Linked DNA regions of Homo sapiens. The protein of the gene in region 4 purifies or fractionates together with the protein of the main gene of each other region. This does not show direct contact. Each region holds a gene or a part of one and is shown on either strand. Other genes may lie near its edges. The genes, in order: SLC30A9, PRDM16, PRMT8, SPDEF and FASTKD1.

Region 1 (3,520 bases), on a different chromosome or scaffold from region 4:
CTAGCTACTTGGGAGGCTGAGGTAGATAATTGCTTGAACCTGGGGGGCGGAGGTTGCAGTGAGCCAAGATCGCGCCACTGCACTCCAGCCTGGGTGACAGAGCGAGACTCTGTCTCAAAAAATAATAATACAATGCAATAAAATAAAGACCTTTCAAATCTATAAGTGTAATGCAAATGAACTTAAAACATGAAAAATCAGGGAGCAATGTAGAGGAAATCCCACTGGTCAATGAACTTCAATGTTTATTAACCTCAATGCTCCAAGAAATAAAATTAGAACAAGATACTATTTCACACCTATCAAACTGGCAAAAATTTAATAACTCTATTAATACAATCATGTAAGAATAGGAAGCAAGAACCTTGATATACAATGATGGAAGTTAAATTGACACACTTTGGAAAATAACTTGGTAAGACCTAGGCAAGCTGAAGGTAAGTACACCCAATGGCCCACCTATTTAAAATCTAGCTATCTATATATACACCATACTAAAGAAATTTTCATATATGTGAACAAGGAAACGTGTGAGAATGCAATCATGGCATTGTTTCTTTCTTTTTTTTTTTTTTTTGAGACGGAGTCTCGCTCTGTCGCCCAGGCTGGAGTGCAGTGGCACGATCTAGGCTCACTGCAACCTCCAACTCCCAGGTTCAAGCGATTCTACTGCCTCAGCCTGCCGAGTAGCTGGGACTACAGGCACGCACCACCACACCCAGCTAATTTTTGTATTTTTAGTAGATACGGGTTTTCACCATGTGGGCCAGGATGGGATCGATCTCTTGACCTCGTGATCCGCCCACCTCGGCCTCCCAAAGTGCTGGGATTACAGACGTGAGCCACCGCGCCCGGCCATGGCATTGTTTCTAACAGTAATATAAATGTCCATCAACTGGAGACAAAATAAATAAATTACAGCATATTCATAGGATGAAATGCTCTATAACAATGAAGGTAAACTGACTAGAGATATATAAATTAACACGGAAGAATCTAAAAAATATGTTGTTATGCCAATTGTAGAGACGCATACAGTAGGATACCATTTATACCAATTTTTAAACATTCAAAATGTTACATATTACACTAAAAAATGCTGAAAAGTATAAAAATCTGAATGGAAAAGACAGGTACCAAATTCAGCATAATGTTTAATTCTAGGGATGGAAGAAGAAGAATGAGATATAGAAAGAGAAAATGGGGGCTTGAATTGTTTTTGTAATTATTTCTTTTTTTAAGACCTTAAGCAAATACACTATAGCAAAATGTTAAGATTTGACAGGGGCAAGTGGTAACATCTGTGCTGTTCATTATATTCTGTTTTATAAATTCTCTTTTAAACTATTCTTAATAAAAAAATGGATTCTGGAGTCAGGCAGATCTCGATTCATATATGACTCCATCTCTGTGGCACTACAACTTAAGGCAAATTACTTAATCTCTGTCTTTCAATTTCTATATATGTTAAAATAAAAATGTTATTTCATTGTTGAAATAACAGGGTTGTTGAGGGTAAATTAGATAAAAAAAGATTAAATGCACATAGCAAGCATGAAATAGTAAGTTTGTTCTTTTGCTGTCTCCTCTGAACCCCTCCATAGTAAATATAAAGGTCTCTGTTAAATTTTGGAACCTAAGAAGTTGAGAGCTAAAGTGCCTTTAAGATCTATAAAAAAAAATTTCATTTTGTTTACCTTAAAAGCATTTTTCTAACCCTCAGTTATGTAAGAAAACAACAAATAAACTTACTTGTAACATTTGGTCAAAATCTTGTTTTTCCAAATATGATCTTGTAACAACTCGCCCATCAAAATCTACTTCTGCCTTAAATCTTACTTTACCTAATCCCAGATCTGTGGCTTTAACATCATGAATTGCCCTGCAATCAATAACAATGCATACAAATTTATTTATACATACATACACATATATATACTTTAATAGCACAAAGGCTTGAATTATTGTTTTTTTCCCCACTAGTTACGAGAATGGACTAAGATGGCTTCAGAGTATTCACCATTAAGTACCACCTATCATTTTCCAAGGCCTGTCCGTTTAGCTTTTTTTTTGGCATGATATCATACAAAGGTGCAAACTTAACAAATATTATTTTATGGTAATTTATGAATTATAAAGCTCATGTATTAAAAGTTCATTAACTCTGCTGGGCGCAGTGGCTCATGCCTGTAATCCCAACACTTTCGGAGGCCGAGCAGGGAGGATCACCTGAGGTCAGGAGTTTGAGACCAGCCTGGCCAATATGGTGAAACCCTGTCTCTACTAAAACTACAAAAATTAGCCAGGCATGGTGGTGCATGCCTGTAATCCCAGCTACTCAGGAGGCTGAGACAGGAGAATTGCTTGAACCTGGGAGGCAGAGGTTGCAGTGAACCCAGATTGTGCCACTGCACTCCAGCCTGGGCAACAGAGTAAGACTCTGTCTCAAAAAAAAAAAAAAAAAAAAAAAAAAAAAAAATATATATATATATATATATATATATATATATATATATATTCATTAACTCTAAATCAATTTTCTAAAATGTCATGTTATCTCATAAGCCTTTGTCTCCATATATCTACTTATCAATTTCCTAAATGCCATATAAAAATTTGTTTTAATTTATAATGGTGTTGTAGAGTATATTAACCAATTGTATGTTCACTAGCTTCTTTAAAAGTCTTCATACAATGCTGTGAAGTTCTCTATTAGAATGAGGTTAATAATAACTGCCACATGGGACTTGATGTGAGGAATAATGAGCTAATACATATATAAAATGTTTAATACAGTAAGAACTATAAGGCAGGCATTTAATGGATGGCTTTCATAAGTGGATAGGGTGACATCTTTATTTTATACATGATAAAACCATCCTAGAGTGGCATAAGTGACTTGCTCAAGGTAATTTAGCTAGTAAACAGCAGATTAGGACTCCCCAGCCCAGCTCTTCAGAAATGCAAGCCCAGTGGTATTTGCATCATACCCTTTTGCCTCCCAGACAGGAAAGCAGATACTCAAGCATAACTACTTTTCACCCCTCCTGCTCTAACCCTCAGTAAACAATCTTCCCTAGAAACTGCTGAGAAATTCTCTTCTTTCTACAGTGATCACTGTAAGATCTTTTCTGTACAGCACATATAAGAAATAACAAAACACTCTGAATTCTGAGGACATGGAGATTTACTAGAAAAACAAGCCTACGTAAGACTCCAAGTATTCTTACAACATTAGACCCTAATTTCTGAGGGATCCTGAGCAGGTTACTAAACACTGAGTCCAAAATTTTTTATCCATATAAGGAAGCTATATTTTAATCAACCATCAAGGATGAAATAAGAATTAATGTTTTAATATTTATAGTTACATGTGCTCAAGTTAAAACAAAACTTTTTCAGATTGGCAAAAGGCTATATCATTTATTCTTTTTTTTTTCTCTCCTGGTAACTCACAGAACATATTTATTCATTTTCAAAAATCATTTCTACTTTAGTCTTCACAGAGTATAAACACATT
Region 2 (3,520 bases), on a different chromosome or scaffold from region 4:
CACCGCCATCAGCGCGGAAAACGCGCATGGGACGGCACAGAGCCTTATTCAGAGGAGATGAAATAGTCACTAGGACCCAGCCATGTTTTAAAATGATTATAAATTATTTTAACAGTGCATTTGCAAAGGGTTATAAAAACAGCCATAATATATTTTTTTCCTTAGATTCTAGAATTACCAGTGTGACAGCTAATGCAATAATGATTTGTTTCAAATGCCAGTGTTTAAGCTGTATAAAGCTGATTTTATACATTTTTCCAGTAGGCCGCATTGTAGTTAATGAAATTAAACACACCAATCGCATTTGTCCCCAGGGGACGAGGAACTGAACACACCACTGGTTTATTTTTTTATTAAAATAAATTGCAGCCGGCAAGATGGACTAATTGCATACAGAATTGAAAAAGAAACATTCCATTGATATAATTAAGCCAATTTTCATGGACAGAAATAGTTATAGTGGATATAAAATAAGCAAAACCTTCACCAGAATCTGACTTCCCTCCTTTTCTGCCCAAAATGTTAACTATTAAACAAATATGATCTTGGAGCGGCCAGCACTCCTATCTTCAGGCCTCGGGGCATTGTTCCCGCGTCTCAGGCTAGGCCGGCCAGGCGGGCCAGCCCAGGCACCTCCAGACCGTGGAGGATTTGATGGCAAAAGCCCAAGAGTGAAGTGGTCAGACCAGGGAGAGGCCACTCCTCCCCTGCTCTGGGCCCACCAAAGCTTGGGAGCACTCCTGGCCCAGGATGACCACCGTGGCCCTGGCTGCAGCCTAGGAGACACCCAGACTTCAGGAGCCGTGGCCCACGCCAGGCTGGACCAGGGATGTCAGCAGCCGGCCCCTTCCACCCTGCAGCTCAGACCAACAGGGCAGCAGCAGCTCCACCTCCCCCTGACTGCTGGGCGGTGGGTGGAGGCGGTGGGTGGTGGTTATTCCCCTCCAGATCTGAGGGGTGGCAAAGGGCAGGTCCTACACCTCCCGGGCCAACCTGAGCCTCCTGCATTTGCTCCGGATGAAGGCAGTGAGCGAGGGAGTGTGGAGGGTGCAGGCCAGGCCACCCGACCAAGGTTTCTGCTCCTCTGTGCCTGCCCTTGGGGACAGAACACCCACAGAAGGGGCAGGAGCTGTGGGGGACGGAGCCCAGCGGGAGTCCAGCCTGCAGGTGTGAGGTCACTTACACGCTGGACGCACGTGATGTCCTGCCTGCTTTTTAAGAACAGACCTGCTACAAGTTGAGCATTGGCCTTGAGAAAATGCTTAAACCCTGACACGCACACACACACGCGCACACACACACACACACAGAAAAAACCCTATGGAATTAACGGCAGCCTGTGGTGCTCTGTGGGGGAGGGGAATGCTACATAAGAAGCCCTGGAGGTCTTCATTCCACTGAATTTCACTGGAGCCTCAATCTGCTGTGTGCCCTCCCAAGAGTTCCTCCACCTCTCTGCGTCTGGGGTTTCTCACTCTCAAAAGTGGTGCCTGCTCGCCTGCACTCTGTCTTCCCAGGGTCAGTGAAGGGAGGAGGTGTCCTGTCCCCCAAGTGCACTAGGGAGCCCGGCCCGTCTCCCGAGGTTGCCGGCAGGGGCCGGGGCTGCGGATCAGACTGGGCAGGCGGGTCTACCCTGGAAAGCCAGACCCCCACCCTCTGCCTCCGTTTCTCTGCACCGTCTTCCCTCCCCCTACAGCCCCTACTTAAACCCAGGCGGCGCGCGCTCCCGCGTCTCTCGGGGCGCGGGTCGGGATGTCGCAGGGAACCCAGGCAAGCGGGGGGCCTGGCGCCCACGGTGTCCCGCACGAGGTCGAGGGTCGGCGGTTGGGGACGCGGAGGCCGCCCTCCTCCGCAAGGGAGGCCAGGAGGAGGGGACCCCGGGGTCCAAGCTGGGGCTCTAGAAGGGGAGAGCGCCGCTCCCGCTGGGCCAGGGTCGGGGCGCCAGGCTGCGCGGTGTGGACGCGGGCGCTGCTCCGCGGTAGTTGGCCGCGACTTTGTGCGCGGGGAGTGGGAAGTCGGCCGAGACTACCGGCCGGCCCGGGGTCCCCCAGGCCCCGCTCCCCGACCCGGCCCACGCCGTCTGCAGCCCTCGGTGGCTCGATTCTGAGCCCGCGGCCGCCGCTGCACCGCGGCGAGGCCCCAGCCAGCTGGCTTCGCTCGCGAAGTTTCCTTCCCGCACGGGGAAGTCGCCGGAGCTGCTCCTGGTCCTCCCGCGCCGGCGACGGGAGCTGCAGCTTCCAAGACTCGTTACACGGGTTTGATTCAAAACCTGATAAATTGTATTTAACGCTATTTGAAAATTTTAAACGAAATTATTCAAAAGATTTTTAATCCCGGATAATTTTTGTTGAAACTCTAATTATACATCACCTTAATTACCAGCCCAAGCCCCCCAAGGATCCCTAATTGCCTCCTAATTGAATAAAACAGGGGGCTAATCGGGCCCACAGCGGCCCAGCGAGCTGCCACCAGCCTCACCTCCCCTGAGGGGCCCGGTGGGGGGAGCCCCTGGCTGCTGGGTCCCCTTCACCCAGCCTCCCGGCAGAAATGGCAGACCTGGTCCCCTGCCCTGCGCACTGCCTACAGGAGGACTTGGGAGCCGAGGAAGCCTCGGGGCCAGGAGGGGCCAGGATGTCGGGCTGGCACCTGCTCTGGAAGAGCCGCTCACAGGACAAGGAGGACCCCCCGAGTGGGCGTCTGGTGGTTGGCGAGCCAGGCATGGCCGGTGCCTGTCCCCAAGGAGCCCACCCAGCAGTTGCTCCACAAGCCAGCTTGGCAAGCCCCTCCTGCCAGCTTCCGAGCCATGGCACACCTGCGCAGCCAGGGGCTGAGGGAGGGGGCCTGTGGGTGACACACAGTCCACTGCCGTGGGGCACCAAGCCCTGGCGGCCAGCCCCGCACTCCACCCCTCCACCGCAGCCTCTGTGTTTTCGTCCGAAGCGGGGCAAGACGCTGGATTCCCGCCGGACGTCCTGGCGCTGCTGCCCTAACCGGCCTTCAGAGGGAAGGCTGCCGTCCTGGCTCTGGGGAGGGGACTGGTGGACGGGGCCAACTGCCCCAGGGAGGGTGGGAGAAGGGAGGGCCCAGCCAGCCTGGCCTGTTTCTACGAAGAAGGAAGGAGGCTGTGAACTGGGCCGCCAGCCCCGCTTACCTCTACCCTGTCTCCAGCACACCTTCCACACGCATCACCCTCAAACACGAGCAAGACACACACAGTCCCCATCTAGTGGGGGCTGCAGCTCCCCCACCCCAGGGGCTAGATGGGACTTGTGGAGAGGACACTCCCCCAGCCCTGGGGTATGTGGCATCTAGGACATGGGGTCTGCCACCTAGGTGGGGATCAGGCCTCAAGGAGCAGCTCTGATGGGGGTGCCGACTGGCACATCCTCCTCCTGCACAGAGGCCCCCAGCTGTGCTATGAGGGCGATGGTGATCCAGAGAGCACCTTGGTGGTGCTAACCCCCCACCTGCCCACCTGGCTCACAACAGCCCTGGAAACAATAAGCTTTTGTTAAGCATT
Region 3 (3,520 bases), on a different chromosome or scaffold from region 4:
AAATGTCTTTTCTTACTTCACTTGTTATAAGAATTCCCTCAAGCATCACAGTTTTTCCCATATTTGTAATGAGTGGCCCATAAGTAAAGATCTCTTTTTAAAGTGTAATTTTATATTGAGCAAACAGCTTGATGTGCGTATTTTCATAAAGTCATAGAATGTTAAAGTTGGGTGGAAACTCAAATCACTTAAGTCAGGAGATAGGAACTACTTGTCCAATATCACAGAGCTCTTCCGTGTTGGGGTCAAGATCCTGTGGACTCCTGGGTCTGTGCTCTTTATACCTCCTTTAAACGTAGCATCTCATTTATTGTTTTTATTTTTTGTGCCAACTTTCTGGTATATCCTGATCTGTACTGTCTAAGACCAGTGTTTCTCTGCATAAGGTCTAGGAATTGTGCATAGTGAGAGCTCTGACCTTCTTGTAGAACTTAAAATGCTCGCTTATTACATTGCATTGTGTGCAATGCTGTGAATTACATATATCCCCATTGTATGGATTAATAAACTGAAGCACAGAGAGTTACTGTTATTTGCTCAAAATCCCACAGCTGGTAAGTGATGAGGCTAGAGCTCAAAGTCTGGTTTTCTAATCACCAAAATGCTTTTTCTAGTCCGCTAGGCTGCGAAGGCATGAGAAGAACCAGAGTACAAACTTAAAATGTGAAGAGAAAGGGTGGAGAAATTAACAGCAGGAATGTGGAATGGTGAATTTGGAAGAAGCCTAGGAAGAGACACCAGCCCAGCTTTCCTTTTTCCAGGACGTCTTTTCTTGCTTCCACCGCCATCTTGCCATCCTCACTTTCACAGTCTCCAGTACTGTGCCGTGTGAGTGACAGGGGCCTGACATAATTGTGGCAGGGACAGCCATCACCTCACTCTCCCTGCGCATCTAAACTATCCCTAGGCGTGGGTTCCTAGCTGGACCCAGTAGACAATGTACTTGTCTAACAAAGTATAGCTCTTCGGAAGCTTGACCCTAGGCCATCAATATTAGATCTGGACTCTCATCCAGCTACTTTATTGGGATAAAATGAATACTAAAGTCTCCAGGACAGGAACTTTGTTTCTTAAAATTTATCTTTGTAGTTTCATCACCTGTATTACCCTCCTAGGTCTGCTGTAATAAAGTACCACAAACTGGGTGGCTTTAAAACAACGAGATGTCTTCTTCCACAGTTCTGGAAGCCAGAAGTCTGAAATCCAGATGCCAGCAGGGTTGGTTCCTCTTGAAGTCTTCATGGAGAATCTGTTCCTTGCCTTTCTTCTGGTTTCCCGTGGTGGCCAACGATGCTCAGCCTTCCTTGGCTATAGACACATCATCTGGTCTCTGCCTTCATCTTCACAGGGCATTCTTTCCTGTGTGTGTCTATACGTCTTCTTATAAGGACAACAGTCTTGTTGGATTAGGGGCCACTCTAATCCAATATGACTTCATCTTAACTTGATAACATCTGCAAAGACCCTATTTTTATTTTTATTTATTTATTTATTTTTTTTTTCCTTTCTTTTTTTTTTTTTTTATTATACTCTAAGTTTTAGGGTACATGTGCACATTGTGCAGGTTAGTTACATATGTATACATGTGCCATGCTGGTGCACTGCACCCACTAATGTGTCATCTAGCATTAGGTATATCTCCCAATGCTATCCCTCCCCCCTCCCCCCGACCCCACCACAGTCCCCAGAGTGTGATATTCCCCTTCCTGTGTCCATGTGATCTCATTGTTCAATTCCCACCTATGAGTGAGAATATGCGGTGTTAGGTTTTTTGTTCTTGCGATAGTTTACTGAGAATGATGGTTTCCAATTTCATCCATGTCCCTACAAAGGATATGAACTCATCATTTTTTATGGCTGCATAGTATTCCATGGTGTATATGTGCCACATTTTCTTAATCCAGTCTATCATTGTTGGACATTTGGGTTGGTTCCAAGTCTTTGCTATTGTGAATAGTGCCGCAATAAACATACGTGTGCATGTGTCTTTATAGCAGCATGATTTATAGTCCTTTGGGTATATACCCAGTAATGGGATGGCTGGGTCAAATGGTATTTCTAGTTCTAGATCCCTGAGGAATCGCCACACTGACTTCCACAATGGTTGAACTAGTTTACAGTCCCACCAACAGTGTAAAAGTGTTCCTATTTCTCCACATCCTCTCCAGCACCTGTTGTTTCCTGACTTTTTAATGATTGCCATTCTAACTGGTGTGAGATGATATCTCATAGTGGTTTTGATTTGCATTTCTCTGATGGCCAGTGATGATGAGCATTTCTTCATGTGTTTTTTGGCTGCATAAATGTCTTCTTTTGAGAAGTGTCTGTTCATGTCCTTCGCCCACTTTTTGATGGGGTTGTTTGTTTTTTTCTTGTAAATTTGTTTGAGTTCATTGTAGATTCTGGATATTAGCCCTTTGTCAGATGAGTAGGTTGCGAAAATTTTCTCCCATGTTGTAGGTTGCCTGTTCACTCTGATGGTAGTTTCTTTTGCTGTGCAGAAGCTCTTTAGTTTAATTAGATCCCATTTGTCAATTTTGGCTTTTGTTGCCATTGCTTTTGGTGTTTTGGACATGAAGTCCTTGCCCACGCCTATGTCCTGAATGGTAATGCCTAGGTTTTCTTCTAGGGTTTTTATGGTTTTAGGTCTAACGTTTAAATCTTTAATCCATCTTGAATTGATTTTTGTATAAGGTGTAAGGAAGGGATCCAGTTTCAGCTTTCTACATATGGCTAGCCAGTTTTCCCAGCACCATTTATTAAATAGGGAATCCTTTCCCCATTGCTTGTTTTTCTCAGGTTTGTCAAAGATCAGATAGTTGTAGATATGCGGCATTATTTCTGAGGGCTCTGTTCTGTTCCATTGATCTATATCTCTGTTTTGGTACCAGTACCATGCTGTTTTGGTTACTGTAGCCTTGTAGTATAGTTTGAAGTCAGGTAGTGTGATGCCTCCAGCTTTGTTCTTTTGGCTTAGGATTGACTTGGCGATGCGGGCTCTTTTTTGGTTCCATATGAACTTTAAAGTAGTTTTTTCCAATTCTGTGAAGAAAGTCATTGGTAGCTTGATGGGGATGGCATTGAATCTGTAAATTACCTTGGGCAGTATGGCCATTTTCACGATATTGATTCTTCCTACCCATGAGCATGGAATGTTCTTCCATTTGTTTGTGTCCTCTTTTATTTCCTTGAGCAGTGGTTTGTAGTTCTCCTTGAAGAGGTCCTTCACATCCCTTGTAAGTTGGATTCCTAGGTATTTTATTCTCTTTGAAGCAATTGTGAATGGGAGTTCACCCATGATTTGGCTCTCTGTTTGTCTGTTGTTGGTGTATAAGAATGCTTGTGATTTTTGTACATTGATTTTGTATCCTGAGACTTTGCTGAAGTTGCTTATCAGCTTAAGGAGATTTTGGGCTGAGACGATGGGGTTTTCTAGATAAACAATCATGTCGTCTGCAAACAGGGACAATTTGACTTCCTCTTTTCCTAATTGAATACCCTTTATTTCCTTCTCCTGCCT
Region 4 (4,213 bases):
TTCTTGTCTGTTAAATGGGCTGTCAAGAGTATGTCTTAAAGGGGTTGTGGAGATTGAGATGGAGGGTGAATGGAAATCATTTATGATGGGTTGAGTGTACATGAGGGGGGCCCTGGGCACAGGTGAGGGGATCAGCTGGAGAAGAGGAAAGAGAGAGGGAATGGGGTGAGGAAGCCGGGGAGCAAAGGAAGAAGCGGAAGGTGATGGGGAGTAGAGGGAGTGGGCGAGAGAGTGGAGTCTGGGGGGAGCTGAGGATGGTGGTGAGGGAGGCTGGGGCCCTGTCCTGTTCTCTAGCCCAGTCCAGGCAGCTGCAGGCTTCACCCACCCTCCCTGCCCTCTAGGAGGAACCAGAACCAAGAATTCCTGCCCCACCCACTTCCCCCCGGCCCCCGCACCCGCCACCACCCCCCAACGCCCAGGAGACCGGCTGGCAAATCCAACTCCTACACAGCCTTCAAGGTCCTGCTCCAGGCTGTCTCCTCCGTGAAGCCTGCTTTAACAGGCAATAGCCTTGTCTAACCTTGTTTCACAGACAAGGTGTTGCAAGTACAGTGAGGAAAAGTGACCCGCCCACGGTCCCACATGGCGGGACCTCACCTGTTCCTTCTTGCCCTCCACCTTGAGGGTCTGTGTCCCCCTGTCAGACTAAATTAACTTCCCCGGGTTATACTCAGGCTGCAACAAGTCATTTAGCACAAAACTGCTCTAACGGTTTCAGGGCTATTCACTTTATACTCACAACGACCTCAGTGGTAAAAAGTGGGTTCTCCCGGTTTTTGCACTTCCTGCCAGCATCACACTTTCTGAGCATCGACTGAGCACCTACTGAGTGCAGCCCTATTCCCTCAGACTTGGTTGACAGAGAAGCCCTATCGAATTCAGAGGGTCCTTGTGAAAACCAAAGTGTTTTACAACTGACAGTGTGCAATAAGCAAGTCTGGTAGTTTTCAGCTCTGGATACCCCCACGGGGCCTCACTCAGAGGAAATGCTTGTACATGCACTGTCAGCCTCTCAAAGGCGAGGGTGGGTCCCCTACGCAGTGAGACCACCTCCTCCACACAGCCCCACCTGCCTGGGAGCTCCGAGAATGCCCCCCACCATTTGTCTGTGAGTTTGGGGTGGTGGGACTCCAAGCTGGGGGTCCTTGGCTCTGGCCCCTCTTGCAGGTGGGTGGAGGGAAGCTCAGCCCAACTGGCCTGGCTGAACCATGGCCTGGGCCTGCCCGTCTGGTGGGGCGTCTCCTCCCCATCCCTGCCCACCAGCTTGGGCCTGGGGCAGCCTGGACGCCTGTTTGCTTTGTTACTCAGCTGAGCAGCTGGTGATGGGGAGATGCAGCTTTATTGGGGAGGTTGCGGCAGGAAATGAGGCAAGTCCCAGCCCTGGCCGAGGAGGAGGAGAAAGCCCATGGCCATCATAAAGGACACAGGCTACGCGGGGCTCATGGCCTGGGTGTGGGCTGCTGGGCGGCCCCAGCTGATAGGTGAGGTGAGGGATCTTGGCCTGCCCCTCCCCAACATGCACACACACGCACACACACATGCACATGCAACACGCACGCGCACATGCACACACCACACACACACATACTTCCGCGCACACACACGCACGCACACACCTCCACCAGCCTCAGGGGCACCCAGTCGCCCAGGCCCTTCAGCTTCCCACCCTGTCATCCCACCACCCACTTCCTCTCTCCACCGCAGAAATCTGGCAAATCTTAGAAATGAGCACCTTCGAGGTACTGCTACTGTTGCTTTCCTTGTGTGCCAAGACCAGGACCCAAGGCTCTCAGCTTCCCCCAGTGTCCAAGGGCTCAGAGTGTGTGCTCAGCGGTGACCCCAGCCCCCTGGTTCCTGTGCCCATCCCTGCCCAGCCCAGCTACTGGGCTCTGGACCTGTCTCCCCTGTCCCGAACTGGACCCGGCCTTAGACTTAGCCCTGACCCATCAAGCTCCAGCAAGCCCCTGCCCACTGGTGGCCTGGCACCAGGGAGACCCTTTCCTCAGCAGAGCAGCTGGGTTGGCAGCAGCAGCAAGCCGCTTGTGTTTCTCCAGCCAAGCAGAACTGGCTGGGTCTCAGGGGCCGGGGCTCTGCATCTGCACGGCGGCCTCCCCTCAGGCTGGGCAGACTGGGCTCAGTGTGGGGGACCCCAGGCCTTGCCGGGCAAGGGGGCTCACCCAGCATGTAGAGTTGGCCCAGAGAGGCAGTCTGGGGAGCATGAGGAGGGGGCAAGGAATTCTGAGGGTAAAGGGATCCAGGTCACAGGGTCACTGATGACTGGGAGATGAGCTCTGAGCTGGCAAAGTGCGCCCCCTCCAAGTCCTGCCTGCAGTCGCCCACCCCCCAGCTGGCAGGGAAAGACCCCATGCCAGGGTACCCCCACCTCCTGTTGGACTCACCTGTTAGCTGCCTGGTGCCCAGGGAGCTGTCTGCTGCAGTGCCAACTTCAGGGGCCGGGAAGAGGTGTGGGCAGCTGAGGCCACTGGCGTGTCTCAGCCAGGCATCTGGGGGGCCAGCGGAACCAGGGGCCAGCAGGGCTGGTGGCAGAGGCAGCACTCAGGTTGGCCACTGGGGGCCTGGCCACCCTCAAGGGGTGGCCCTCTGAGGTCTCAGGGCTGCGTGCCTGTAGGGAGTCCCCTACCCCCAGCCCAGGGCTGCCTGCTGGCACCGTGGCAAGGCCCAACCTGAGGGGCTTGCAGGGAGCTGGCAGCAGGCTTGGAGGACTGGGTCTGTGGGGCAGTGTGGACACGGCAGAGTGCAGGAATGTGCTGGGAGGAAGTCAGACAGCCGCGAGATGAAGAGTTGGCCAGGGCCTGATTTCCCATTATAAGTAATCCTTCCTTATTTACCTGAACAAATACACTCCTTGCTTACCTCAGACCACAGGCAGGCTCCTGATTAACCCTTGCAGGTCTCCCCCTCCTTGCTGGGGGATCCATGCCCTGACAGCTAGGGGACTCATTCATTCACTCGCTCATTCACTCGTTCATTGGTTGCTGCATAGCCACTCAGCTCATATTACGTGCAAGGCGCCAGAGATACGTCGAGTGGGTCCAGGGCTGGGGTTCTAAGATGGATCAGCTGAGGGCCAGAGACAGACAAGTGAGCAGCAGTGGAGATCCAGAACCACCCATGCCCAGATGGAGGACTGAGGGGGCACTGAGGGTGGGCACCAACTAGGGAAATCAGTGAGGGCTTCCTGGAGGAGGTGCTGTCTGGCTACTCAGGCCAGGGATGGAGAGAGCTTCAGAGAACCCTGGGGAGGGATCCCGAGGCTTGTGGGCCAACCACGACCTGGTGGGAACTGTGTTCTCTGTGCCCCACAGGGTCCTCATGCAGACCTGTCACACAGTGGCGGTGAGGAAGGACTCCTAGCTCGCTTTCCCAGGCCCGTAATCGGGGGCCAGCCAGCAGCAACTTGCTCTCCCATAGCCCCAAAGGGTGATGGCAGGGATGCCACGCAGGACAGAGGTACCCACCACCAAGCACTTGCTGCCCCAGACCCTCCACCTCCTTGAGCCCTGCGGGGGCCACACAGTCCAGCTTTTGGCTTCCTCCATGTCCTGCCAGGTGGGCTGAGAGTTGTCCCTGGAGGCTGGGCCTTCCTTTCTCCAAATCATCTCAGAAGGGCTCCACGTACCTGCTACCTCCATTCTGACGGGAGAAAGTTCTAGATAATGCTGATTTTTCTCTTGTTTCAGGAGTAACTGTGTAACTGCCGAGAGCATGAGGATTCTGGGGCTGCAGGGGATCCCAAGGCCTTTAGAACTAGCCCCTCACCTTCACCAATACCCACATTCTCCAACGTAAGGTTGCACTTTGCACCCCCAGGGAGCCCTGTACTTGGCTGTTATCGTCACTGGCACCTTGGTTGAGGATCAGTTATCAGTCATTCCCCAGAGAAGGTTGAGGGAGGATGGAGCGGAGGAAGGGGAGGTAACACAAGGTCCTGAAATGGTACACTCGACCACTCCTAATCCCCAATGGTCCAGCCCTCCAGGGTCAATAAAGAAAGACACGCTGCGTTTCCAGGTGGATCTCCTTCCCCTAGAGTGCGTTTTTGTGCCTGCTTCTCTGGTGGCCACGCCTCCCTCCTCCCCACTCTCACAGAAGCCTGGCTTATATCACAGCATTCTGATGCATTAATACTAATGACCACTGCTTAACAGGCACCTACTGTATGCCTGTATGTTCGATGCTCATGAGATGCTAA
Region 5 (3,520 bases), on a different chromosome or scaffold from region 4:
GAAGTATTACTTACCTTCCTTCCTCCTACCTCATTGGCCATCCCTGCTCAGTCTCCTTTCCTGATTCCTCCTCTTCCTCTTAATCTTTTAATGTTGGGGCACTTGAAAACTCAGTCCTCAGACCTCTCCTCCATTCACACTCTTCTCTAATCTCATTTTAAGCGATTTCATCTACTCTCATGGCATTGAATACTGCTGACATTTATACATTTATATCTGGGGCCTGGACCTCTTCCCTGACCTCCAAGCTCATTTACTGAATTCTCTATTTGATATATCCACTTAGATGTTTAAAAGACATCACAAACTCAACATATCTAAAACAAACTTGTGATCAACCCCCACCACCTGCCCCCCATCTTGCTCTTCCTATAGACTATCCCCATCTTAGTTAATGCTAATGACATCCTCTTAGTTGCTTAGGACAAAAACTTAGAATTATCCTTGACTCCTATTTGTCTCATACCTCATATCCAATCAGTGAGCAAATTCTGTTGCCTTTATCTTCAACATACATCCAAAAAATCTGACTACTTCTTATTACCTCCACTGCTACCACTCTCTCCAAGCCACCATCCATTGTTGTCTGGATTATTGCAATGACCTCGTAAAGAGTTTTCTTTCTTACACATTTGCCTCATCGTAGTCTTTTCTTATCTCAACAAGGTAGCCAAAGTAACGCAGTTAAAATGTGAATTCATATCATTCCTTACTTGAAAAGCCCCCAATGGCTTCTCATCTCGCTCAGAGTAGCCAAGAGGTTGTATTTGACTCTGTTATCTCTTATCTTTTCTCTTATACACTCCCACCCCACTCCCCACTTGTTCTGCTCCAGCCACACTGGATCCTTTGTTATTCTCAAACATGCCAGGCATGTTCCCACCTTAGGACATTTGTACCTATTTTTTAATTGAGACAGGCCACTTTATTAAAATAGGTCCAAATGTAACACACGATAACATTCATTTTAAATAAAAACTACAAACATGACTTGACTTCTCCAAATATACATTCTCTCAGGTAGTCCATCCGAGCATCCTTTGTTGACAGTGCCATAGAGTTCCATTCAAACTGGGAAATCTGAAAATAAGTAATGTTGTTTGAATGAAAGTTTTAAAGCAACAACAAAAAACATTGAGGAAGACATATAAGCACTACTGATCAAAGCTGTAGGAATCCTATGAAATTAGTTTACATAAGGATAGCCTGTGAACCTCTACTGGAAGCCAAGTGGGTCCTTCTGACATTGCCTAGAATACTTTTTTCTGCTCCTTTCATCCTCCTTTTCCTACAATACCAATGATGGACATTTTTTCCTACATAGTCTTCTATATTCATACCTAGTTGTTTCCTCTGATAACTCTATCCATCTCTACAGTGCCTCTCTCCTTTGTAAGATATAGAAATCATAAGATATGGATATTCTAAAGACAATAAAATAAATGACAACTTTTATTTATTTATTTTTATGAGACAGGGTCTTGCTCTGTCACCCAGGCTGGAGTGCAGTGGGATGATCACGGCTCACTGCAGCCTCAATCTCCTAGGATCAAGCAATCCTCCCACCTCAGCCACCCAAGTAGCTACAGGCATGAGCTATTGTATCTGGCCTGTTTGAGTGATACATTTTAAAAAATATATTTAAAAAGGTAATTCTGGAACTTTCACATTAAAAGGAAGCACATGTACAGCTAGTGTCTCTGGGCTTTTTAGAGGCTGAATTACATGAGTATTTCATACCTGAATTACACGATACCCCAGAATTTCCAAATGTCGTTTTTTCATAGCAGATTTTCCTTTCATGTGAGGGATATTTCTACAAAGTGCTTTTGAATCCAAAAATTCCAAAGCAATCCTACATAAAATAAAAAAATATTTACTCCTAAAATCAGAATAAGAAACTGAATAATTACAAGCTTTTCAGAAACAAGATTGCATCTTTATAAACTAACAAAAGCCAATGAATATAAATGAGTATATCAAGTTATGTTTCTACTAAGAAATTAGTAATTGATGACAAACCTATTTAGTTACACAAAATTATTGTAAATATTTGTCTGCTTTCATCCATTTTTTTGGTCCAATATATATTTACACATGCCTACTACATGTAAACCACTGTGAGGGGTACAAATATGAAGCAACACAGCTTATAGTCTAACAGAGAACACATGATGTATAGTAAGTTACTGTAATGCAGTGTAGGAAGTGGCTAAGTGCTATGAGAAAAGTAGAGAGGTATGGGAGCGCAAAAGAAGATACTATTTTACTTCCAGTGGAGGACAATTCTTTTAGCACTTTAGTTAGGGAGATTGCTAGGCTTTGGACAGAAGAAGGGAGAACATTAAAGCAGAAAGGAGAGGAAAAGCAAAGTTACAAAGGTGGAATGCATGACATATGAGGAACAGATTCCACTACCTTCAATCCTTGATCACTGACTTCAGTATAGTACACCAAATTTAACATTTAGATATTAATACAATCTAAAACTAAGAAATAAATTACCTTTCAGCCCCTGGTGGCAGCCTTGATCCAACTATTTCGATATTTGATTCCCAGGGCATTTCTGGTAGTTGTCCCAATGCTATATTATGGCTTCCATACGGAAGAGGTTTTTTTCTTTTATCCAAGATACACTCAAAATCTTAAGGAAGCATAGAAACTGGTAGTATGAATTAGGTAAAGTCTTACAGATAAAAGTTTAAGATATATTTGAAATATATATGCATATAATATTTGTACACACACACACTCACAAAAGAATGACGAACCTCTCAGATTATCCAAGTTATTTTTATAAGATCTGGTCCAATGGCACCTCTCTTTGGAAATCAATCAATAAAAAAATCAACCAGAAGAATTACAAAACAATATTAAGTACTAGGCTACATTTAGCGCTGGGCTAGGCCAAATCACATTAAAGAGTTTCAATCTCTTTAAGGCTCTTGATTACATTTGGAGAAAGCTAAACCAACTCATCTGAAAATTAATAAAGAAAAAGATACAAGCATTTATCCTGTCTTTTCTACATGAATTGTACATAAGAGTAACTAAACAGTTGATATGGGAAAGTCCTTTTTAGACAAATTCCAGCTAATAAATGTAGAAGGCATGATAGATGTAGAATATCGCTACTTTACCACCCCTCTGAATGATGGATTTAGGCAATGAGTGATCATTAATAACTGCTAAAATCAGCAGGTGAAAAGCTGACAGGGGAACTTTCTGTTGAATGAATCAGCTGACAACATACGAACCCACTGATGAGTCTTAATGTATAAAAGACAACCAGGCCAGGCACAGTGGCTCACACCTGTAATCCCAGCATTTTGGGAGGCCGAGGCAGGCAGATTGCTTGAGCTCAGGAGTTCCAGACCAGCCTGGGCAACATGGCAAAACCCAATCTCTACAAAAAACTTAAAAAATAAGCCAGGTGTAGTGGTAGCTACTCCGGCTGAGGAGGCTGAGGTGGGCGGATCCCTTGAACCTAGGAGGTCAAGGCTGCAGTAAGCCATGCTTG

Evidence for each region.
Region 1: the proteins of SPDEF (region 4) and SLC30A9 purify together in Homo sapiens (affinity purification with mass spectrometry; 2 studies listed by BioGRID and IntAct, with this or other methods). This does not show direct contact.
Region 2: the proteins of SPDEF (region 4) and PRDM16 purify together in Homo sapiens (affinity purification with mass spectrometry; 3 studies listed by BioGRID and IntAct, with this or other methods). This does not show direct contact.
Region 3: the proteins of SPDEF (region 4) and PRMT8 purify together in Homo sapiens (affinity purification with mass spectrometry; 2 studies listed by BioGRID and IntAct, with this or other methods). This does not show direct contact.
Region 5: the proteins of SPDEF (region 4) and FASTKD1 purify together in Homo sapiens (affinity purification with mass spectrometry; 3 studies listed by BioGRID and IntAct, with this or other methods). This does not show direct contact.

The regions. Positions count from the first base shown.
Region 1 is NC_000004.12:42,074,019-42,077,538, reverse strand, and holds part of SLC30A9 (proton-coupled zinc antiporter SLC30A9, mitochondrial), read right to left. Parts: intron 1,883-3,520; coding exon 1,753-1,882; intron 1-1,752. UniProt on the Homo sapiens protein: Mitochondrial proton-coupled zinc ion antiporter mediating the export of zinc from the mitochondria and involved in zinc homeostasis, zinc mobilization as well as mitochondrial morphology and health.
Region 2 is NC_000001.11:3,072,201-3,075,720, reverse strand, and holds part of PRDM16 (histone-lysine N-methyltransferase PRDM16), read right to left. Parts: exon of another isoform or gene 159-3,520; intron 1-158. UniProt on the Homo sapiens protein: Binds DNA and functions as a transcriptional regulator. Displays histone methyltransferase activity and monomethylates 'Lys-9' of histone H3 (H3K9me1) in vitro.
Region 3 is NC_000012.12:3,497,686-3,501,205, forward strand, and holds part of PRMT8 (protein arginine N-methyltransferase 8), read left to right. Parts: intron 1-3,520. UniProt on the Homo sapiens protein: S-adenosyl-L-methionine-dependent and membrane-associated arginine methyltransferase that can both catalyze the formation of omega-N monomethylarginine (MMA) and asymmetrical dimethylarginine (aDMA) in proteins such as NIFK, myelin basic protein, histone H4, H2A and H2A/H2B dimer.
Region 4 is NC_000006.12:34,553,530-34,557,742, forward strand, and holds the start of SPDEF (SAM pointed domain-containing Ets transcription factor), read right to left. Parts: upstream 2,801-4,213; 5' UTR 2,400-2,800; intron 1-2,399. UniProt on the Homo sapiens protein: May function as an androgen-independent transactivator of the prostate-specific antigen (PSA) promoter. Binds to 5'-GGAT-3' DNA sequences. May play a role in the regulation of the prostate gland and/or prostate cancer development.
Region 5 is NC_000002.12:169,528,847-169,532,366, forward strand, and holds part of FASTKD1 (FAST kinase domain-containing protein 1, mitochondrial), read right to left. Parts: intron 2,645-3,520; coding exon 2,506-2,644; intron 1,856-2,505; coding exon 1,741-1,855; intron 1,081-1,740; coding exon 979-1,080; 3' UTR 1-978. UniProt on the Homo sapiens protein: Involved in the down-regulation of mitochondrial MT-ND3 mRNA levels which leads to decreased respiratory complex I abundance and activity.